Linked DNA regions of Homo sapiens: regions 2, 3 and 4 are each linked to region 1. Evidence: fine-mapped expression QTL. A gene starts in region 1. Each other region holds a variant in brackets. All regions are shown on one strand. Distances are from middle to middle.

What was found. PIP is the estimated chance that this variant, and not a neighbour inherited with it, causes the effect.
Region 2: its variant is the best candidate, but not a certain one, in a credible set for the expression of TRAPPC9 in gastroesophageal junction (GTEx, PIP 0.74).
Region 3: its variant is the best candidate, but not a certain one, in a credible set for the expression of TRAPPC9 in skeletal muscle (GTEx, PIP 0.54).
Region 4: its variant is the best candidate, but not a certain one, in a credible set for the expression of TRAPPC9 in whole blood (INTERVAL, PIP 0.65).

The regions. Positions count from the first base shown.
Region 1 is chr8:140,455,491-140,460,490 of GRCh38, forward strand. TRAPPC9 (trafficking protein particle complex subunit 9) reads right to left here and starts at 2,254. Exons shown (of 23, transcript NM_001160372.4): 1 at 2,149-2,254. RefSeq lists silencers at 1,799-1,848, 1,959-2,348, 2,439-2,678, 2,799-3,108 and an enhancer at 2,508-3,026.
Region 2 is chr8:140,429,315-140,434,314 of GRCh38, forward strand. The region is part of intron 4 of TRAPPC9 (trafficking protein particle complex subunit 9); the gene reads right to left. Among named protein-coding and RNA genes, the nearest start is that of TRAPPC9, 26 kb to the right of the region's middle. The variant T/C (reference allele first, on the strand shown) is at 2,544.
Region 3 is chr8:140,407,497-140,412,496 of GRCh38, forward strand. The region is part of intron 5 of TRAPPC9 (trafficking protein particle complex subunit 9); the gene reads right to left. Among named protein-coding and RNA genes, the nearest start is that of TRAPPC9, 48 kb to the right of the region's middle. The variant C/T (reference allele first, on the strand shown) is at 2,004.
Region 4 is chr8:140,371,667-140,376,666 of GRCh38, forward strand. The region is part of intron 7 of TRAPPC9 (trafficking protein particle complex subunit 9); the gene reads right to left. Among named protein-coding and RNA genes, the nearest start is that of TRAPPC9, 84 kb to the right of the region's middle. The variant C/T (reference allele first, on the strand shown) is at 2,174.

The sequences.
Region 1 (5,000 bases):
CGCGATCTCGGCTCACTGCAAACTCCGCCTCCCAGGTTCAAGGGATTCTACTGCCTCAGCCTCCCAAGTAGCTGGGACTACAGGCGCCCACCACCATGCCCAGCTAATTTTTGTATTTTTAGTAGAGAGGGGGTTTCACCATGTTGGCCGGGATGGTCTCGATCTCTTGACCTCGTGATCTGCCCGCCTCGGCCTCCCAAAGTGCTGGGATTACAGGCGTGAGCCACCATGCCTGGCCAGGCACAGCATTATTCTTAATAGCTAAGGAGTGAAAACAACACAAATGTCCATCAACTGCCTGATACACAAAATGTTAAATCTATACAATGGAATATTATTCAGCCACAGAAAGGAACAAAGTGCTGATGTAAGCCACAACATGAATAACTTTAGAGCACTGTGCTGAATGAAAGAAGCTAAATACAAAAGGCCACATGTTGTATGATTCCATTAATAGGAAATGCCCTGAATATGCAAATCTATATATATCGAAAGTAAACCGGTGGCCGCCAGGGGCTGTCGGAGGGGGGAATGAGGAGTGACTGCTAATGGGTATGGAGTTTCTTTCTGGGGTGATGAAAATGTTCTGGAATGACAATGGTAACACAAGTGTGAATATACTAAAAATTACTGAATTGGCCAGGCATGGTGGCTCACGCCTGTAATCCCAGTACTTTGGGAGGCCAAGGCGGGTGGATCACGAGGTCAGGAGTTCGAGAGCAGCCTGGCCAACAGAGTGAAACCCCGTCTCTACTAAAAATACAAAAAAAATGTAGCCGGGCATGGTGGCAGGCACCTGTAATCCCAGCTACTCAGGAGGCTGAGGCAGGAGAATCGCTTGAACCCAGGAGGCGGAGGGTGCAGTGAGCCAAGATCGTGCCATTGCACTCCAGCCCAGGCGACAGTGCGAGACTCCGTCTCAAAAAAAAAAAAAAAAGAAAAATCACTGAATTGTACACTTTAAAGCAGTGGATTTTATGGCAGGTAATCGAGGCTCAATGAAGCTGTTATTTTTGACACACTAGATTTCTGAAACATTTATTGTTTACATGTTTCCGGACAACTGTTTTTCCCTCTACACTACTAGTCCTCCACACAATTAAAAAAACGAACAAACACACACAACAAAACCTAGCCAGATCTTTAGGACGGCAATGTTCCTGGGCCTCCAACATCATCCACCCGGTGCTTTGTTTCAGGTTAACAAATAAAGATGTCATAGGTAGCTATGACTACCTTAGAAACACGGGACAGTCACCAGTTTAAACTGGGGCCGTGAGGGATGGAAGGGAAGTCACTCCCCCATACCTTTCAACTGGGCCTTGCTTCCAGCGTTTTAATTCCTCTCTCTATAGAAACATTTGAAGACAGACAACGCATCCTAACACGGGAAAACTTTCGGTTAACAGACATTCACGTTGGGAAGGTCTGCAGGGGTGGAGGGGATTGGGGTGGGCTGACAGGGAGAAGACCACAGGCCAGTAGCCTGACTTCCTCTCCCCAGGGTTCCCTGGGATAAGTTGGAGTTGACAGCGCGCTTATCCCAGAGAGCACCGCCTGATGCCGCCCAGCTAGATCGCAGGCACTTTGAATCCAGGAGACAGGAGGGAAAGGGCTAGGGGAGAAGTCCGGGAACTCAGGGCGGGGAAAGCGCCGGGGGCGTGGGCTGTGCTGGGCCCCAGGCCCCAGCCGCGCGTCCCAGACCCCGCGGGCTCCAGTGGGCTTAGCCAGGCCCAGGGGCGGGGGGCTCCAGCGCCGCGGACGGCCCGGGAGGGGAAGCCAGGCGGAGACAGCTCGGAGGCACAGAGGGGAAGGGGACCCCCGCCGCGAGCTCGGGAGAGCAGAGCCGGCCCGGGCAGCAGGTGTGGGCCGGGTCCCGGACAGGTGTCCGCCGAGTCTTCAGCGGGTGTGGGACACGGCCTTGGACAGATGTAAGCAGAGCGCCAACAGGAGCAAGGGCGCCTCGAGCAGGTGCACGCTGAACCCCGGCCCGGCAGCGGACCCGGACAGGTGTGGCGGGCTCCGCCCGGACAGGTGAGGGCCGGGCGAGCCCCTCCGCGGGACGCGCCGACTCCACGGCCAGCCGCGCAGCCCTCCCCGCAGCCGGTCCGAATTGCCTGACCGGGAGCCCCCCCGCTTTGCACTTACACAGCCGGTGGCCCCGGGCCCGGAGCGGGAGCCCACGACCTGGCGGGCAGCGGGGCCGAGCAGCCTCTGCGGCCACTTCCCAGGCTCTGGGCTGGCGCTTCCTACTGGCGGCCGAGCCGGCGCTGCTCCTGCGCGTGCGCGGAGGCCAGGCCTGGGCCCCCGATCCGTCCCGGGTTTTGCAAGAGACGCGAGGGAAGCAAGGGGGTAGGAGCGAGGGAGAAAAGAGGAAGGAGGAGCGAGGGAGAGAAGAGGGGACAGGGAGGGAGGGGACATGGGGAGGGAGGAGGAGGAGGGAGGAGGGAGAGAAAAAGGTGGGGTGAAAGAAGGAGGGAGGAGGAGCGAGGGAGAGAAGCGGGGACGGGGAGGGAGGAGGAGGAGAGTAGGAGGAGGAGGGGTGAAAGAAGGAGGGAGGGGCAGCGAGAGAGAGAAGCGGGGGACAGGGAGAGGGTGGAGGAGGGAGGAGGGAGGGAAAAAGGAGGGGTGAAAGGAGGGAGGAAGAGGAGGAGGGAAGGAGGGAGATGGAGGGAGATGGAGCGAGGAGGGAGGGAGGGACCGGAGCAAGAGAACAGAGACTAGGAGGAAAGCTTCTGCACCTGGGGCGGCGCAGCTGGAAGGAGGCCCAGTTCTGTCCCCGCCGCTTACCAGTCCTTCAGGGCGCGCAGCTCAAATTTCACTTCCTCTGTGAAGCTCAGGGGTGGAGGCCCCGCGGAAGCCCACTGTGGATCCCTGCGGCACCCCCTGTGACCCTCACGGTACCCCCCGTGACTCCCACGGTCGTGCCCCCCACGTGGGTGGGTGACCGTGGCGCGCGCGGCCTGGGAGCGCCTCCAGGATCGCAGGGCCCGGGAGGCACGTGAGGTGCGAGCCCCAGCCTGGGCCGGCTTCCCCCTGTGTGGCGCGCGGTCTTGATCCCCAGCTGGCACCATGGCACTCCCGACTTTGAGGGCCCCAACAATCCATCCACATAAAAGGTTCCAAAGAGGCGACAGGGGCTAGGACAGCTGTCGTTAGTTCAGTGCCAAGGCGCCAAGCTTGCTAAGTGCGGGCAGAAGCCATTTAAGGATTTAAACCCCTCTGGGTTCAAAAATAAAATAAAATAAAGCAGGAGATGGGGGAGGCTTACAGACTTAAGATGCCCAGCACATGAATTAACAGTGGCATCCGCAGGGAAAATTGAAAACAGAGAGCCGCTCTCCGTTATGTATGTTTAATGTTCTGTTTGAATCTTTTAACATGTACATGTATTTCTTTTTCAATTAAAAAATCCTGGCCAGGAGAAATGGCTCACACCTGTAATCCCAACACTTTGGGAGACTGAGGCGGGTGGATCACTTGAGGTTAGGAGTTCAAGACCAGCCTGGCCAACATGGTGAAACCCCGTCTCTACTAAAAATACAAAATTAGCCAGATGTGGTGGCGCGCGCCTGTAATCCCAGCTACTCAGCAGGCTGAGGCAGGAGAATCGCTTGAACCTGGAAGACAGAGGTTTCAGTGAGCCGAGATCATGCGATTGCACTCCAGCCTGGGCAACAACTGCAAAACTCTATCTCAAACAACAACAACAACAAACACTAAAAAGGGCTGGGTGTGGTGGCTCACACCTGTAATCTCAGCACTTCGGGAAGCCAAGGCGGGTGGATCACCTGAGGTCAGGAGTTCAAGATCATCCTGGGCAACATGGTGAAACTCCAGTCTCCACTAAAAATACAAAAATTAGTTGAGCGTGGTGGTACATGCCTGTAATCCCAGCTACTAGGCAGTCTGAGGCAGGAGAATCTCTTGAACCCGGGAGGCGGGGGCTGCAGTAAACCAAGATCACACCACTGCACTCCAGCCTGGGTGACAGAGAGAGCCCATCTCAAAAAAAAAAAAAAAAAAAATCCTAAAATGGAAAAGTAAAGAGGACAGGAGTGGTTTTCTCAGCACATACAGCAGCAAGGGAGAAATGGTCTGAGCCAGCATTTTTCCTTTCAGCCAGCAGGCACTTACCCGCTCTGGGCTATGTGACCAGGGCTGTTTTATTATCACATGTGTTATAAAATAAGATACTATCCCTCATCCCTGCTCAGGGCTAGTGGAAAACCAATTGAGTTTTTATTGAATTATTTTCTACAGAGTCAGAATGAGTTATAAATAAAACATATCTTCAGGGCAAAACAAATAGAGCTGATTTCCAGCCTGCCAGACAGCCAGGAAGTTTTCAACAGAGGTGCCCAGGGGCTGAGGAAGAGTGTCTCCCTGACAACGCACAAGCTGCCCAACGTGGCTACCTCATGGTGTTACGACCGCATGGAGGCCGTGCAGTGGCTCACAGCTGTAATCCCAGCACTTTGGGAGGCCGAAGCAGACGGATTGCTTGAGCCCAGGAGTTTAAGACCAGCCTGGGCAACACAGGGAAACTCTGTCTCTTGGAAAAAATACCAAAATTAGCTGGGCAGGATGGCACAAACCTGTAGCCACAGCTACTCAGGAGACTGAGGCAAGAGGATCGCTTGAGTCCAGCCAGGTCGAGGCTGCAGTAAACCATGATCACTCTAGCCTGGGAGAGACAGCAAGACCCTGTCTCAAAAAAAAAGTGGTTTTTTTTATTTTTTTTAAATGAATAAATAAACAAAAGAGCGTATGGGCTTAACAGAGAATACAGAAAAGATACATTTAAAAGGCCACTGCTAATGGAGGTCTGAGTGCAGAAACTAGGCTCCAAGCTTACCTCATAAGATCCAAGCAAGGGAGCTATTTTTAGTGCTGAAGTCCAGAAAGGATACCCTACTTGGCTGGGGTCACACAAATGGCTGGTGCTATTTAGGGATTCAAATCCAGGGCTGTCAGACCCCACAGACTCTACTTTTTGC
Region 2 (5,000 bases), 26 kb before region 1:
CTCCTGACCTCGTGATCTGCCCACCGTGGCCTCCCAGTGCTGGGATTACAGGTGTGAGCCACTGCACCTGGCCAACTGCCAGGATTTAAATCCCAGCTCTGCCACTTACTAGCTCCATAACCTTGGTCAAGTTCCTCAACCTGTCTATGCCTCAGTTTCCACATCTGTAAAACTGGGATAATAATCCAACCTACCTTATCTGGTTGTTGTGAAGATTAAAGGGTTAAATTGGTGTATATAAAATGTGTGTAGAGGCCGAGGTGGGTGGATCACTTGAGGTCAGGAGTTTGCGACCAGCCTGGCCAACATGGTGAACCCACATCTCTACTAAAAATACGAAAATTAGCTGGTCATGGTGGTGCACACCTGTAATCCCAGCTACTGGGGAGGCTGAGGCACGAGAATTGCTTGAACCCGGGAGGCAGCGGTTGCAGTGAGCCAAGATTGTGCCATTGCACTCCAGCCTGGCAACAGAGTGAGACTCTATCTCAAAAAAATAAAAATAAATAAAATGTGTGTAGCACATTTTAAATGTTCAACAGATGTTATCAGCCAGGTGTGGTGGCTCACGCCTGTAATTCCAGCACTTTGGGAGGCCGAGGTGGGCAGATCACCTGATGTCAGGAGTTCGAGACCAGCTTGGCCAACATAGCGAAACCGTGTCTCCACTAAACATACAAAAATTAGCTGGGCGAGGTGGCAGGCGCCTGTAATCCCAGCTACTTGGGAGGCTGAGGCAGGAGAATCACTCGAACCCGGGACGCAGAGGTTGCAGTGAGCCGAGATCACGACATTGCACTCCAGCCTGGATGACAGAGTGAGACTCCATCCCAAAAAAAAAAAAAAAATGTTATCTGTTACAGTGATTTTACAAATGTCCCTTCTAATCATCCTTTGTATTTCCTTACTAGTCTAAATAGCAAAGGATATCCTTATTTCTGTGTTACAAAGAAAGAACTGTCACCCCATGACCTATTTAAACTGAGGGGGAAGATGGCACTTGCTCTTCACTCCTCTGGTTTCCATAATAAAGGCTTTGTCCTAAGCACCACTGACCTCTTGCCCACCCCCATTCCTCCCCCACCCAAGTGGAGTGAGGTGTAAGATGAGTTTGGGAGACAAGCTGGGCATGTGAACCCCTTCTTTTGCCCTTGGGTGCTGCACTCAGGAAGCACACGGGATGTTCTGCTCCGCCATGCCTATGGCTGACAGGGAGAGGGCCCCTCGTAGGAAGGTCTGCTGTGGCCCAGAGCCACCAGATCTTGGACACACAGTAGTAGGATGCCCATTTTTCTGCATCCCTCAAGTTCATGGAAAATGTGGGGGTTGTTTTTTGTTTTTTAAGACAAGGTCTTGCCCTGTAGCCCAGGCTGGAGTGCAGTGGCAGAATCTCAGCTCACTGCAACCTCTGCCTCCTGGGCTCAAGCAATCCTCCCAACTCAGCCTCTTGAGTAGCTGGGACTACAGGCACGCGCCAACATCCCAGGCTAATTTTTTGTATTTTTTGTAGAGATAGGATTTCACCATGTTGCCCAGGCTGGTCTCAAATTCCTGGGCTCAAGCGATCCATGCACTGTGGCCTCCCAAAGTGCTAGGATTACAGGTGTGAGCCACCATGCCCGGCAGAGAATGTGGTTTCATCACTAATAAGGGCGGAATTTTTATTCTCTACCTTACTCTTGTCTCGTCTCTCAGTTGGTTGTTGAAGAAAACAGGGGTGTTTTTATTGGGCCCCTTTAAGCCCCAACATATACTAATCCACAAATAATTCTGTGGCTTGGGTAGGTCAAGATGGCTACATAACGGCCATGTCTCTAAACCTGCAGCTAAATTATGGGTATAAGAACTACTGACCCTCCTCGCCGGGCGCGGTGGCTCACGCCTGTAATCCCAGCACTTTGGGAGGCCAAGGCAGGCGGATCACCTGAGGTCAGGAGTTCAAGACCAGCCTGGCCAACATGGTGAAACCCCGTCTCTACTAAAAATATAAAAACTAGCCGGGCGTAGTGGTGGGTGCCTGTAATCCCAGCTACTCGGGAGGCTGAGGCAGGAGAATTGCTTGAACCCAGGAGACAGAGGTTGCAGTGAGCTACTGCACTCCGGCCTCGGCGACAGAGTGAGACTCTGTCTCAAAAAAAAAAATAAAAATAAAAACTACTGACCCACCTCAAATATTTCCTTCATTTCCTGAGTCTCTCTTCACGAAAACATTTTTCCTATTTCAATGCCTTAGTAATTTCCAAACACTATAAAATGATGACTTCATATAAAATAATAGCTAATGGTCGTGAGATATTTTATGAGATGACTGCCACGCTAAACATTTTGCACACATTCTCTCTAATTCTCACAATTCTACAAAGCAGAAATTAGGAGCCCCTGCTCATAGATGCAGAGCGAGGAGGTGGGGGGCACCTGAGAAAGAACTGTAGGACTTGCATTCAGACACAAGCCAGCTGAACGAGGCTTTTCCATGACACCACAACACCACCCACTAGCAAACATGCAAAACTGGGTGCAATACTCAGGGAGTTCCAGATTCT[T/C]TTCAGCTTTAAGGTGCTCCAGACAGTTTCTATCTCTTTTATAAATCATGGCTGACTGCCTTCTGACATTGGAAGAAAAGTCCAATTTCACCACTGTCCACATTGCACATCTGAAATTTTCATGCTGAAATGACATAATAAAAATAACTAGAATACTTTTCCAGGTATCCAAATATAATGGGCATAGTGCTATTCTAAAGCATTAAACAACAACAACAGCAAAATTCAAATGAAGGAAGCCTTGTCTAAGTCTTCTTTCACCAACAGGGAAATTAGGACATTAAAAATATATGTGTACAACAGCGCCACCTATGGCCAGAAAGGTCTTTCCAGGTTGCTGAAAAAAAAAGGTAACAAATTTAATTGTTGGCATAATAAGAAATGATCAACAGGGCTTTTTAAAATACGATGCTCAGAGACCATAACTAAAAGTGTAACTAGCACATACTGAAATCTGCTTCAAGGAAGGGAACAGTATTCAGTATTTAATCCAAAAACTTTAACACCCCTAAATATAAACAGAAGACACAGGCTCATAGAAACTAATCTTAGAACAGGAAGAAAACTCGAGCATCTGGCCCACTCTCTTCATTCTACAGGTAGTGAGGTTGAGACCCAGAGAATTTGTTCTTCTAGCAATCAGTGGCAAAGCTTTCTCCTAGTCCTTGGATTTTGCACTATACCAAAAGCCACCTTAATCTATACCAACCCTATAATCATAAAAGTCACGTCTGGCCGGGCACAGTGGCTCACGCCTGTAATCCCAGCACTTTGGGAGGCCGAGGCGGGCAGATCATGAAGTCAGGAGATCGATACCATCCTGGCTAACACGGTGAAATCCTGTCTCTACTAAAAATACAAAAAATTAGCCAGGCGTGGTGGCGGACGCCTGTAGTCCCAGCTACTCGGGAGGCTGAGGCAGGAGAATGACGTGAACCCGGGAGGCGGAGGTTGCAGTGAGCCGAGATCGCGCCACTGCACTCCAGCCTGGGCAACAGAGCAAGACTCTGTATCAAAAAAAAAAAAAGTCATGTCTCTATATTTCAGTCAGTAAATAGCCTAAGTGTCTTACAAAAAAATACTTCCCAAAGGACTGCCAACTATTAATCATACAATTTTGTTGAAATACAAACACATTTATTTATATATTAAAACAGCATAATCGGCCAAGCACAGTGCTCACACCTGTAATCCCAGCACTTTGGGAGGCCGAAGCGGGTGGATCACTTGAGTCAGGAGTTGGAGACTAGCCTGGCCAACATGGCGAAACCTCGTCTCTACAAAAATTAGCTGGGCATGGTAGCACACACTTGTAATCCTGTTACTCAGGAGGCTGAGACACAAGAATCACTTGAGCCCGGGAGGCAGAGGTTATAGTGAGCCGAGATCATGCTGCTGCACTTCAGCCTGGGCAACAGAGCAAGACTCTGTCTCAAAAAACAACACACAGGCCAGGAGCGGTGGCTCACACCTGTAATCCCAACACTTTGGGAGGCCGAGGCAGGCAGATCACTTATGGTCTGGAGTTCAAGACCAGCCTGGCCAACATGGTGAAACCGCATCTCTACTGAAATTTACAAAAATTAGCCAGGTGTGGTGACGGGCACCTGTAATCCCAGCTACTCGGGAGGCTGAGGCAGGAGAACCACTAAAACCCAAGAAGTAGAAGTTGCAGTGAGCCGAGATTGAGCCACTGCACTCCAGCCCAGGTGACAGAGCGAGACTCTGTCTCAAAAAACAACAACAACAACAACAAAAACACACATAATCTATTCAACAATGTCCCCTTGTAGTCAATCTATAAAGGAAAAGTAACTGATGTCAAATCAACGTTTTTACTTTTCTCATCTATTACAGATACAGGAAAAAAATCAAAATTTTCTCAATCACAAAAAAGATAAGCCTGAGGCAGAAGAATAGGATCTAGAGGCAAAGAACTTAAGGTTGTTTCACACAGACTTCCTACAACTACATTGAAAGGAAAACCCTAACTTTCCATGACTAAGTAACAAAAGGACCAGAGGCTGCTCCCTTTGACCTTTTCTGCATGGCAGGTGGGAAACTGGCTGTCCGGAACCACTCAGACTGATTGCTGGTGGAGTCTTAGTTTGCAGAGAAGTATAACTTTGTCTACTTTTCATTTGCATAGAAGCATAACTTTGTAACTTCACCTTAGCCTCTGAGTGGCTGCTTTCCGCAACCAATCAGACTAACTGCAGGCTACCACTTCATTTACAAGAGGTGAGCATGAAGTGGCCAATGGGAAACTTCTAGTGGGTATTTAGACCCAAGAAGATTCTGTATCCGTGCCCTTGAGCCCGCTGCTCGGCCCACTCCCACACTGTGGAGTGTACTTTCGTTTTCAATAAATCCCTGCTTTCATTATTTTGTTGCTTCCTTCTTTGTGACCTATGCAACATGATGACTAAATCCTGAGCCATTAAAGGCAGGTTCATT
Region 3 (5,000 bases), 48 kb before region 1:
TGATCAAAGCATAAGAGGGAAATCCCCCCGACGGAGAAGGAACAAGTGCTCCCTCCACCTTTTAAAGAAAGGGCATCTCCAGTCATGAGGGCTAATTTGATCAACTTAATTTCTTTTTTCTTTGAAACAGAGTCTCTCTCTCTGTCACCCAGGCTGGAGTGCAGTGGTACTGGAGTGCAGTGGCACGATCTCAGCTCGCTACAACCCCCCTCCTCGCTACAATCAAGTGATTCTCCTGCCTCAGCCTCCCAAGTAGCTGGGATGACAGGCACCCACCAGCAAGCCCCACTAATTTTTGTATTTTTAGTAGAGATGGGGTTTCACCATGTTAGCCAAGCTGGTCTTGAACTCCTGACCTCAAGCGATCTGTCCAACTCGACCTCCCAAAGTGCTAGAATTACAGGTGTGAGCCACTGCGTCTAGCTGATAAACTTAATTTCAACATCAAGGCTAGAGGAAAAATTTCTATGTGGAGCAACCAAGAAAAATATAAACCATAGGAAAATAACAAGAGCATCGCTCCCAAGAGAGCTTAGTGGGTCAGACCAATTTAATTTCATTCAACAAAAGACTAATAAGTTCTAGAAACACTAGTAAGCCATAGATTTGATCTTTCTTGACATCTGTAAAGTTGTGACAGCCCGTATGAGATGTCATCATGAACTAGTGGACCAGAGCCATCAAGACCCATAGCCTGTAGATTACAGGCAGGAAAATCAATGCCACAGGAGGCTAAGACCCAGATGGGAGGAGAGACAAAGAAAGAGCATGGATGAGAAGTCACGGGGAGGGGGGAAGGTTGAAAAAGGCACCACCAAAAAGGTTCTCAAGTATCAGCCCAACAATGCTTTCATCATTCACTAAAGAGATAGGTACTGAGCTGCTACCACACAAGACTGTATACAAGGCACAAAACTGGAAACCCAGACATACACATAAGATAAAGCAAAAAAAAGAAGGAAGACAGCAGAGATGGATGCCGCTTGAGAAAGGTTTGCCTTTCTCTCCTAGAGAGAAGCACAAAAAGGGCTTAGATACACCAAGAACCAGTGTGGCAATAATTTCAGCAATGGCTAACAGGCTAGCACCAGCCTGGGTCACTAACATCTGCTGTCCAACTACAAAGCAAAAACCCTGCTACGTGGGCACTGTAGGCTTTATTTTGCAGAGGAATGGCAGGAAGACAAGGCATCCATAAGCCACAGGGTGGGATCGAGTCCTCCAGCACCAGGACACAGTGCCTGGAATCACTGGGGCCAAGATGGACTTTTTAATAATGGTCTGGGACACCTGAGTGGCCATTTGGAAAAAAAAAAAAAAAAAATCAAACCCACACCTCACAGGAGACACAAGAGTAAACTCCAAATGGATCTGAGATCTGAATGTAAAACAGAAAACCATAGTTCAAAAAACACAGGTAAATTCCTCTAAAACCTGGACAAAGGAAAAGGCTCTCTATCACACAAACCTAAACGCAATAAAAGACTAATATATTCAACCACATAAAAACTCAGCAAAATTACTATAAACACAGCAAAACATAAATGATAATCTGATTTAAAAATATATGCAACATATATCACAAACGGCTAATTCCACATACATCAAGGTCACAAAAGTTGAAAAAGAAAAACACAACTAAAAATCCAACAGAAAAAAAAAATGGCCAAAAGATTTGGGCAGATAATTCATAAAAGAAAAACATAAAAATGACCCTTAAGCATTTAAAAAGATATTCAACTTCATTAATGGTAAGAGATGCCATTTGTCACGTATCTAGTTGGCAAAAATGTTAAAAGCCTGACAACACACAGTGTTGGTGTATATATGTAGAAAACACTCGCATGCACTGCTACTGTGAGTGCGAATGATGCGGCCTTTATGAAGAAGACTTTGGCAGGATCTAGTAACACTACATTTATGTTTACTTTTTGACCCAGTAATTCCACTTCTAGGAATTTACACTGAAGACACACCTTCAACAGTACAGAAACATACCTATG[C/T]AATGTGATTTGCTGATATATTATCTGTAACTCCCAAACACTGGAAACAATCAAACATCCACATGCAGAAGAGTGGTGAAATAAAACCCGGTACCTGCACACTTAGTGTGCCACGCAGCTGTGAAAGTGGATGAGAAAGATCTCCATAAGCTGATATGGACTGATCTCCAGGATACATTAGCAACCAAAATAGAACAAAAAACACCAAGTACAAAAGAATATATGTAATATCTTACCTTTTGCACAAGAAAAAGAATTAAGAACATTAATGTGTTTATTTAAAAAATAAGAAGAAGAAAAGGCCAGGAACAAATGATATAAGGGTAGGGAAATGAGGTGGAAAGAATAGGAGAGGCGCTGGGCGCAGTGGCTCACACCTATAACCCCAGCACTTTGGGAGGCCAAGGAAGGCTCCTGGGTTGAGCCCAAGAGTTCAAGACTAGCCTGATCAACGTGGCAAAATCCCATCTCCACAAAAAAACACATGAAAATTAGCCAGGCATGGTGGCACACGCCTGTGATTCCCAGCTACTTGGGAGGCTGAGGCAGGAGGACTGCTTGAGCCCAGAAGGCCAAGGCTGCAGTGAGCTGTGATCATGCCACTGCACTCCAGCCTGGGTGAGGGCATGAGACCTTGTCTCCAAAAAAAAAAAAAAAAAAAAAAAAAAAATAGGAGAGGAAGTGGCACTTCTCTGGGTAACCCTTTTTATATAGTTTTGATTTTTGGAATCATATTAACATTTTATATAGATTTGACCAGGCGCAATGGCTCATGCCTGTAAGCCCTGCCCTTTAGGAGGCTGCGGCAGACAGATCGCCTGAGGCCAGGAGTTCAAGACCAGCCTGGCCAACATGGTAAAACCCCAGCTCTATTAAAAATACAAAATTTAGCCAGACATGGTGGCATGCGCCTGTAGTCCCAACTACTCAGGAGGCTGAGGCACAAGAATTGCTTCAACCCGGGAAGCAGAGATTGCAGTGAGCCAAGATCATGCCACTGCACTCCAGCCTGGGCAACAGAGCAAGACTCCATCTCAAAAATAAAACAACAACAAAAAAAAAGGCCGGGCGCAGTGGCTCACGCCTGTAATCCCAGCACTTCGGAAGGCCGAGGCGGGCGGACCACAAGGTCAGGAGATCAAAACCATCCTGGCTAACATGGTGAAACTCCATCTCTACTAAAAATACAAAAAATTAGCCAGGCGTGGTGGCGGGCACCTGTAGTCCCAGCTACTCGGGAGGCTGAGGCAGGAGAATGGCGTGAACACAGGAGGCAGAGCTTGCAGTGAGCTGAGACTGTACCACTGCATTCTAGCCTGGGTGACAGAGCGAGACTGTCTCAAAAAAAAAAAAAATTATATAGATTTAGAAATATAAAACAGCAACTCAAAGAACTGTAAAAATAAAAAAAGGAAAAAAGATTTTAAAAATCAGCAAAGATGGGGAAACTCATTAATGATATATAAACAGCAATAATTACATTTCAAATAACATAATCACACTGACAGGAAGCATTAAAGGACAAATTCAAGTAACCTCTGACTGCAGCACCCTGTGTATTTATCCTTGGTATCATGACCAAGGATAAATAACCAAAAGAACCACAACCAATCCTTGAACTCTAACTCTAGGTACGGGTTTTGTTAGTTAGTTAGTATGAACTTGACATAACAGTAGAACTTCTCAAAGGGCCTAGAATCAATGAACCTTAGGAGCAATGAGCATGCTTAGTGACCAGACCTTGGTTTCTAAATACCACTTTCCAACAAAAGAAACTAAAACTCCTTAGAAAAACGTCCGATTCCAGAGCTGGAACAGGGAAAGTACAAAATGAACCTAAAATATCTTTCTATGTTTTTGAGATGGAGTCTCATTCTTGTCGCCCAGGCTGGAGTGCAGTGGCGAAATCTTGGCTCACTGCAACCTCCGCCTCCCAGGTTCCAGCGATTCTCCTGCCTCAGCCTCCCAAGTAGCTGGGACTACAGGCACCCACCACCACGCTCAGCTAATTTTTGTATTTTTAGTAGAGACGGGGTTTTGCCATGTTGGCCAGGCTGGTCTTGAACTCCTGACTTCAGGTGATCTGCCTGCCTCAAATTCCCAAAGTGCTGGGATTACAGGTATGAGCCACCGTGCCCGGCCTGAACCTAAAATATCTTGAGCCTGAAAGTAAACATATGTTCAATAACTGATTGAGGAACATGTCAAAAGGTTTTAAGAATCAGCTTGAAGAGCTTCCATTGGCCAAATCTAGCCAATGAGCTACAAAATAAAGAATAATAGCAATGGATTAGAACCTACTAAAAAAATAATGATCCATAAGTCCATAACAATAAGTGGATGGATGGAAAGAAAGAAGGAGAAAAGAAAAAAAAAGCTCCTGCTTATAGTAAAATGCGAATAAACACATAAGGAATGATGAAGCAAGAAAATCGCCATTTGGCAGCCAGCACAGTAATAACTGACTCAGGTGAAACTCTTCACTGAATCAGCCAGAACCAGTGGGTGAAAGTGTGATGACAAACAAGATGTATACAGTCTCAAACTATTTCCCACAAATTACTTATTATTTACATCGAGAAAAATAGTAACTTTACAGTGGAAAACTCCATCAGACTCCACTTTAACCAATTATCAAAGTTAGCCTCACCAGTAATGGGACAAATGAACCTCATGTGCCTCTGATTTAATGCATGATGGATCACTTGACCCCTCCTTCTGCCCTGCCAAAATGCAAAACCTCATAATCAAAAAGCAACTTCAGGCAAACACAAAGTGAGAACATTCCACAAAATAAATGGCCTGCATTCTTCAGAAATATCAATTATCATGAAAAACGAAGATAGGCTGAGACGATACTAAGTGCCATAAACACTAAATGCCGTGTGTGATCCTGGACTGGATCCCGCATCAGGAAATAGAACTGCTGTATTGGAACAGCTGGTGGAATGCAAATAAGGTCTGGGGGGTAGATAAAGGTATTGAATGCATCAACGT
Region 4 (5,000 bases), 84 kb before region 1:
CCCAACAACCCTGTAGTGTAGCAATCATAACTTCTGTTTCTTTTCTTTTTTTTTTGAGACGGAGTCTCACTCTGTCACTCAGGCTGGAGTGCAGTGGTACGATCTTGGCTCACTGCAACCTCCACCTCCCGGGTTCAAGAGATTCTCCTGCCTCATCCTCCAGTGTAGCTGAGATTACAAGCACCCACCCCCATGCTGGCTAATTTTTGTACTTTCAGTAGAGACGGGATTTCACCATGTTAACCAGGCTGGTCTCGAACTCCTGACCTCAGGTGATCTGCCTGCCTCAGTCTCCCAAAGTGCTGGGATTACAGGTGTGAGCCACCACGCCCAGCCAACAACTTCTGTTTCTTCAGCACCTACTGTATGGCAGCAGACTTAACGTACCTGATTTACTCAATACAAGCATCCTGTGAGCTGGCAAATAAGGACATTAACAGCTCAGGGACACATTAATCACCTGTGCAAAATCACACAGCCAAGAAGTATCAGGGACAAGACCTGACTCTGGGCCTGGGCCCTGCCCACTGCACAGCGCCTTCAGAGAAGAAGGAAGGCAGAGCCCACTCTGCTGCTCCAGGAGCACTGTTAAGGAAGCGCTTCTCTCCCTCCTCTGCCCTGGACGATGAATGTTTCCCTGATGTTTCTGTGAGTACAGAGCCTTAGCTTGAACGCCCTTCCAACTTGGGCCTCCAAACCCTCCCTCCATCCCCTCTCCTCCGCGCTCACTGCCATGGCCTCGATGGGGCCCTCGTCAGCCCTCATCTGGAAGAGGAATCGGCATTGTCTTCCTACCACCTCTCGACCTTCCTTCACCTGTCCACACACCCCTGCCAGACTTAGGTTCCTGAGACATGGCTCAGAGCCCATCACCCGAGCCACGGTTTGAATGTTTGTGCCTCCCCAAAATTCACATGTTGAAAGCCTAGCCCCCAAGGTGATGGAATTAGGAGGTGGGGACTTTAAAAAGTGATTGGGTCAGGGGGTGAAGCACTCACAAATGGAATTAGTGCCCTTATAAGAAGAGACCCTAAAGAGCTAGCTCACCTGTTGCACCATGTGAGAACACAGAGAAAAGACGGCGGTCTATGAACAAGCAAGTGGGCCCTCCCCAGACACCAAACATGCTGGCACCTGGATCATGGACTTCTAGCCTCTAGAACTGTGCACAATACATTTCTATTGTTTATCAGCCACCCAGTCTGTGGCATTTTGTGACAGCAGCCTCACCGGACTAAGACAATCCCCATCTTGAAACCACTAGACCCCTTCAGGACTGTAAAATGGAGCCCAAATGCCTTCACGGGCATGCCAGGCCCTCCTCAGCCCCAACCTGCTCTGGAAATTCGAGGCCCCACTGCCTACCTATGACCTCACCAGACTGAACAACTTTAACTCATTTGTTTTCTCATTCTGTCAACACATATTTACTGAACCCCTACTCTGGTGCCAGCCACTCTTGTGGCAGAGGATACAGCAGTGAGCAAAACAAGCTAAGACTCCTACCCCTGGGGGCCTCCATGCTAATGACAGGCTAGTCCCCTGGCTTAGAATCAGTGGGGAGGATGACAATAAATCAATGAAAAAATAAACAAAATAGCTGCTCTAAGTCCAATGAAATACTCTTTGACATAGAATCATGGGTGGAAGCGTATGAGGCAGGCTGTACTAGGTGACGCCGCCGGGGCACACAGGCTCTCTGCTCCTGCAATGCCTCCACAGCCACATCTGGCTCTCCCTTTGGACACTCGGTTCCAATGCCACCCTCTCCAAGAAGCTGGTCCTCATGCCCTTCAGCGGGAAGCTGCTGCTTCTTTCCCTAAATTCTCCTAACCATGCTGGACTCCATAATGTCCTTTCTCTGTGTCTCCCACACAATTTACCTACATATCGGATCTCTGCCAGCCCCACTTTTCCTACAGTGAAAGGTCATGCCGACGCCGACGATGTGTGAGAATCCCTGTTGCTCCACCTGCTCACCAGCATATGAGGATATCACCTGCTCACCAGCATATGAGGATATCACCTGCTCACCAGCATATGAGGATATCAGTCTTTTTTATTTTAGACGTTGTGGTGGCTTTAACTTCCATTTCCCTGAAAACTAATGATGTTGAACCTTTTTCATATGATCACTGGCCACTGGTATATCTTCCTTTGTGAAGCGCTTGTT[C/T]AAATCTTCTGACAGTTTTTAAAATTAGATCGTTTGTTTTATTACTGAGTCGTACGAGTTCTGTATATATTCTGAATGCAAGTCCTTAGTTATATGTGTTTTGCAAATATTTCCTCCCGGTCTGTTGCCGATTTATTTCCCTAAGGGAGTGTTCATAAGCAAAAGCATTTCTCTGTGATGTAGCTCAATCTATCAGCTTTTTCTTCTATGGTTAGTGCCTTCTATGTCCTCATCTGAGAAAAATCTTTGCCCGAGGTCACAAAGATATCCTATGTTTTCATCTAGAAGTTGTTGTCTAGGTCTATGGTCCGTGAATATTCAAATTTGAGTAGGACATGGCCTGTCCCTTTCCAGGAGTGTGCAGTACAGCAGCGAACAGAAGCCCCAGTGCTGGAGGACAGCAGCCAGGGACGGGGTGGAAGAGGACTGTAAAGAGGAGGCAGGGGTTGGCCGGGCGCAGTGGCGCACACCTGTAATCCCAGCACTTTGGGAGGCCGAGGCAGGCAGATCACCTGAGGTTGGGAGTTCGAGACCAGCCTGACCAACATGGAGAAACCCCGTCTCTACTAAAAAATACAAAATTAGCCAGGCGTGGTGGTGCATACCTGTAATCCCAGCTACTTGAGAGGCTGAAGCAGAAGAATTGCTTGAACCCAGGAGGCGGAGGTTGCAGTGAGCCAAGATTGTGCCATTACACTCCAGCCTGGGCAACAAGAGTGAAACTCCATGTCAAAAAAAAAAAGAAAAGAAAAGAAAAAAAGAAAAAGAAGAGGTGGGGGTACTTAACGCCTTCATCACAAATCTGGAAATGCCCAGACCTTCAGCTGCACCCACTATGTGCCAGACATGATCAAAGATGTTGGGGCAGAGAAGGGGGCAGAGAAGACGAATACTGATCTTAGCCAGTGCCTGTAAAGAGGTCACCATCTAAAATAAAGGTGACAGCCGGGGAAGGTCACATGCCTTGGCCACCAATGCGTTAGAACTCCCATTGATTCTTTCATGGAACCTATCTAAGATGAAAGGTTGTAAATAATACTATGATCAGTAATAATATTACTTCATTCCTCTTATCATTTCAGTGTAATAAGAAGTCAAATGATAAATACTACATTGCAAATGGAATTGACATCACTTTAAAGCCCTAAAACGGTTCCTTAATGGGAAAAGCTCGAGCGCAACTGCTTTTGGGCACTAGGCAGACAATTGACTGAGAAGCCATGAGCCCAGAGAGCCTCAGGACAAAGCCATGTTTGGTCGACACAGGCACCTATGGCACAAGGAGCCGGGGAGTACAAAATGGTCCCTGGCAAAGCTAGGCCAAGATCCTCAGGAAATCTTGAAATGAGATGAAATCCCCAAACTCATTTCCAACCTGCTGCTCTTTTAGGGCATATTAATCAGCACATCTTTGTTCTAATCTTTCAATAGGCTGCACAGTCACGAAGTCCAAGTTCAGGGCCCAGATGTTTATGTGAGGTTCCAACGAAAGTGGCTCCAAGACTACTCAAGACAAGGAGCTTTATTCACAAGGCAGACTCTGAGGGATCCAAATATTAACTCACCATTCCATTTCCAAGTAGAAAGTAAGTTTAGACCTGCTTTATTCTGTTAATAAGAAATAAAGTGACAAGATCAGAGGGAAACTCCAGACACAGGACTTGTCTCTGGCAGGATGGAGAGGGAGGAATACAGCCTGGAGCTGTAAAGTCCTGAGTTCCAGGGCCACATCTGCATATCCCTAAGAAACAGGGATCATCAAATCTAATTACGATTGTCAAAAAGACTCAATGAAATAATGCAAACACTGAGCATAAGCCTAAAACTCTCAGTGAGTGTTCAAGAAACAGAAATATCACTGTTAGTTAATGCCTTTGACACCACAAGTTCTAACCCCAAGTTAACCAGCCACTGATGCTCTAGAAAATGCCTTAACCCTCATCAGCCTTCTCAAACGTGGGCACTTGCAGTGATCAGAAGAACAAGTCAGTGACAGATGTGTAGGGGCAGCCTGGTGGCCGCACTCAACTAAATGATGACCGTGGGAGAATGCCGGATGGGAAACAGCAGGCCCCACACATTCCCAGGTTTGAAAACACACTCTGCTCCTCTCTCCGGCTATTTCCAGCCATAATTACATGGAGAGAAAATACATCTTCAAAATTATACAAACTTTCCATATATGTCTATCAAAAAAGTTTGTTAAAAACATAACCTACTTTCTCATATCCCGGAGTAGGGGTATGAGGCATGCACCAAGGATTTTCCTTTATAAAGCATCTGTCTAAAGTAATTGGATCCATTTTCAGTTTTAATCATTCAAAAGTAAGAATGAAAACAAAGCAAAACAAAACAAAAACTTCAATAAGACCTGGTCCCTCAAAACTTCATGAAGTAGTAGAGGAGATAGGTCCATAAAGAATCACAGTGTTGGAGGCCGGGCGCGGTGGCTCACGCCTGTAATCCTAGCACTTTGGGAGGATGAGGTGGGCAGATCACAAGGTCAGGAGATCAGGATCATCCTGGCCAACACAGTGAAACCCCGTCTCTACTAAAAATACAAAAAATTAGCCAGGCGTGGTGGCAGGCACCTGTAGTCCCAGCTACTTGGGAGGCTGAGGCAGGAGAATGGCGTGAACTTGGGAGACGGAACTTGCAGTGAGCCGGGATTGCGCCACTGCACTCTAGCCTGGGCACAGAGCAAGACTCCATCTAAAAAAAAAAAAAAAAAAAAAAAAAGAATCACAGTGTTGAGGCCAGGCAACGTGGCTCATGCCGATAATCTCAGCACTTTGGGAGGCTAAGGCAGGCAGATTACCTGAGGTCA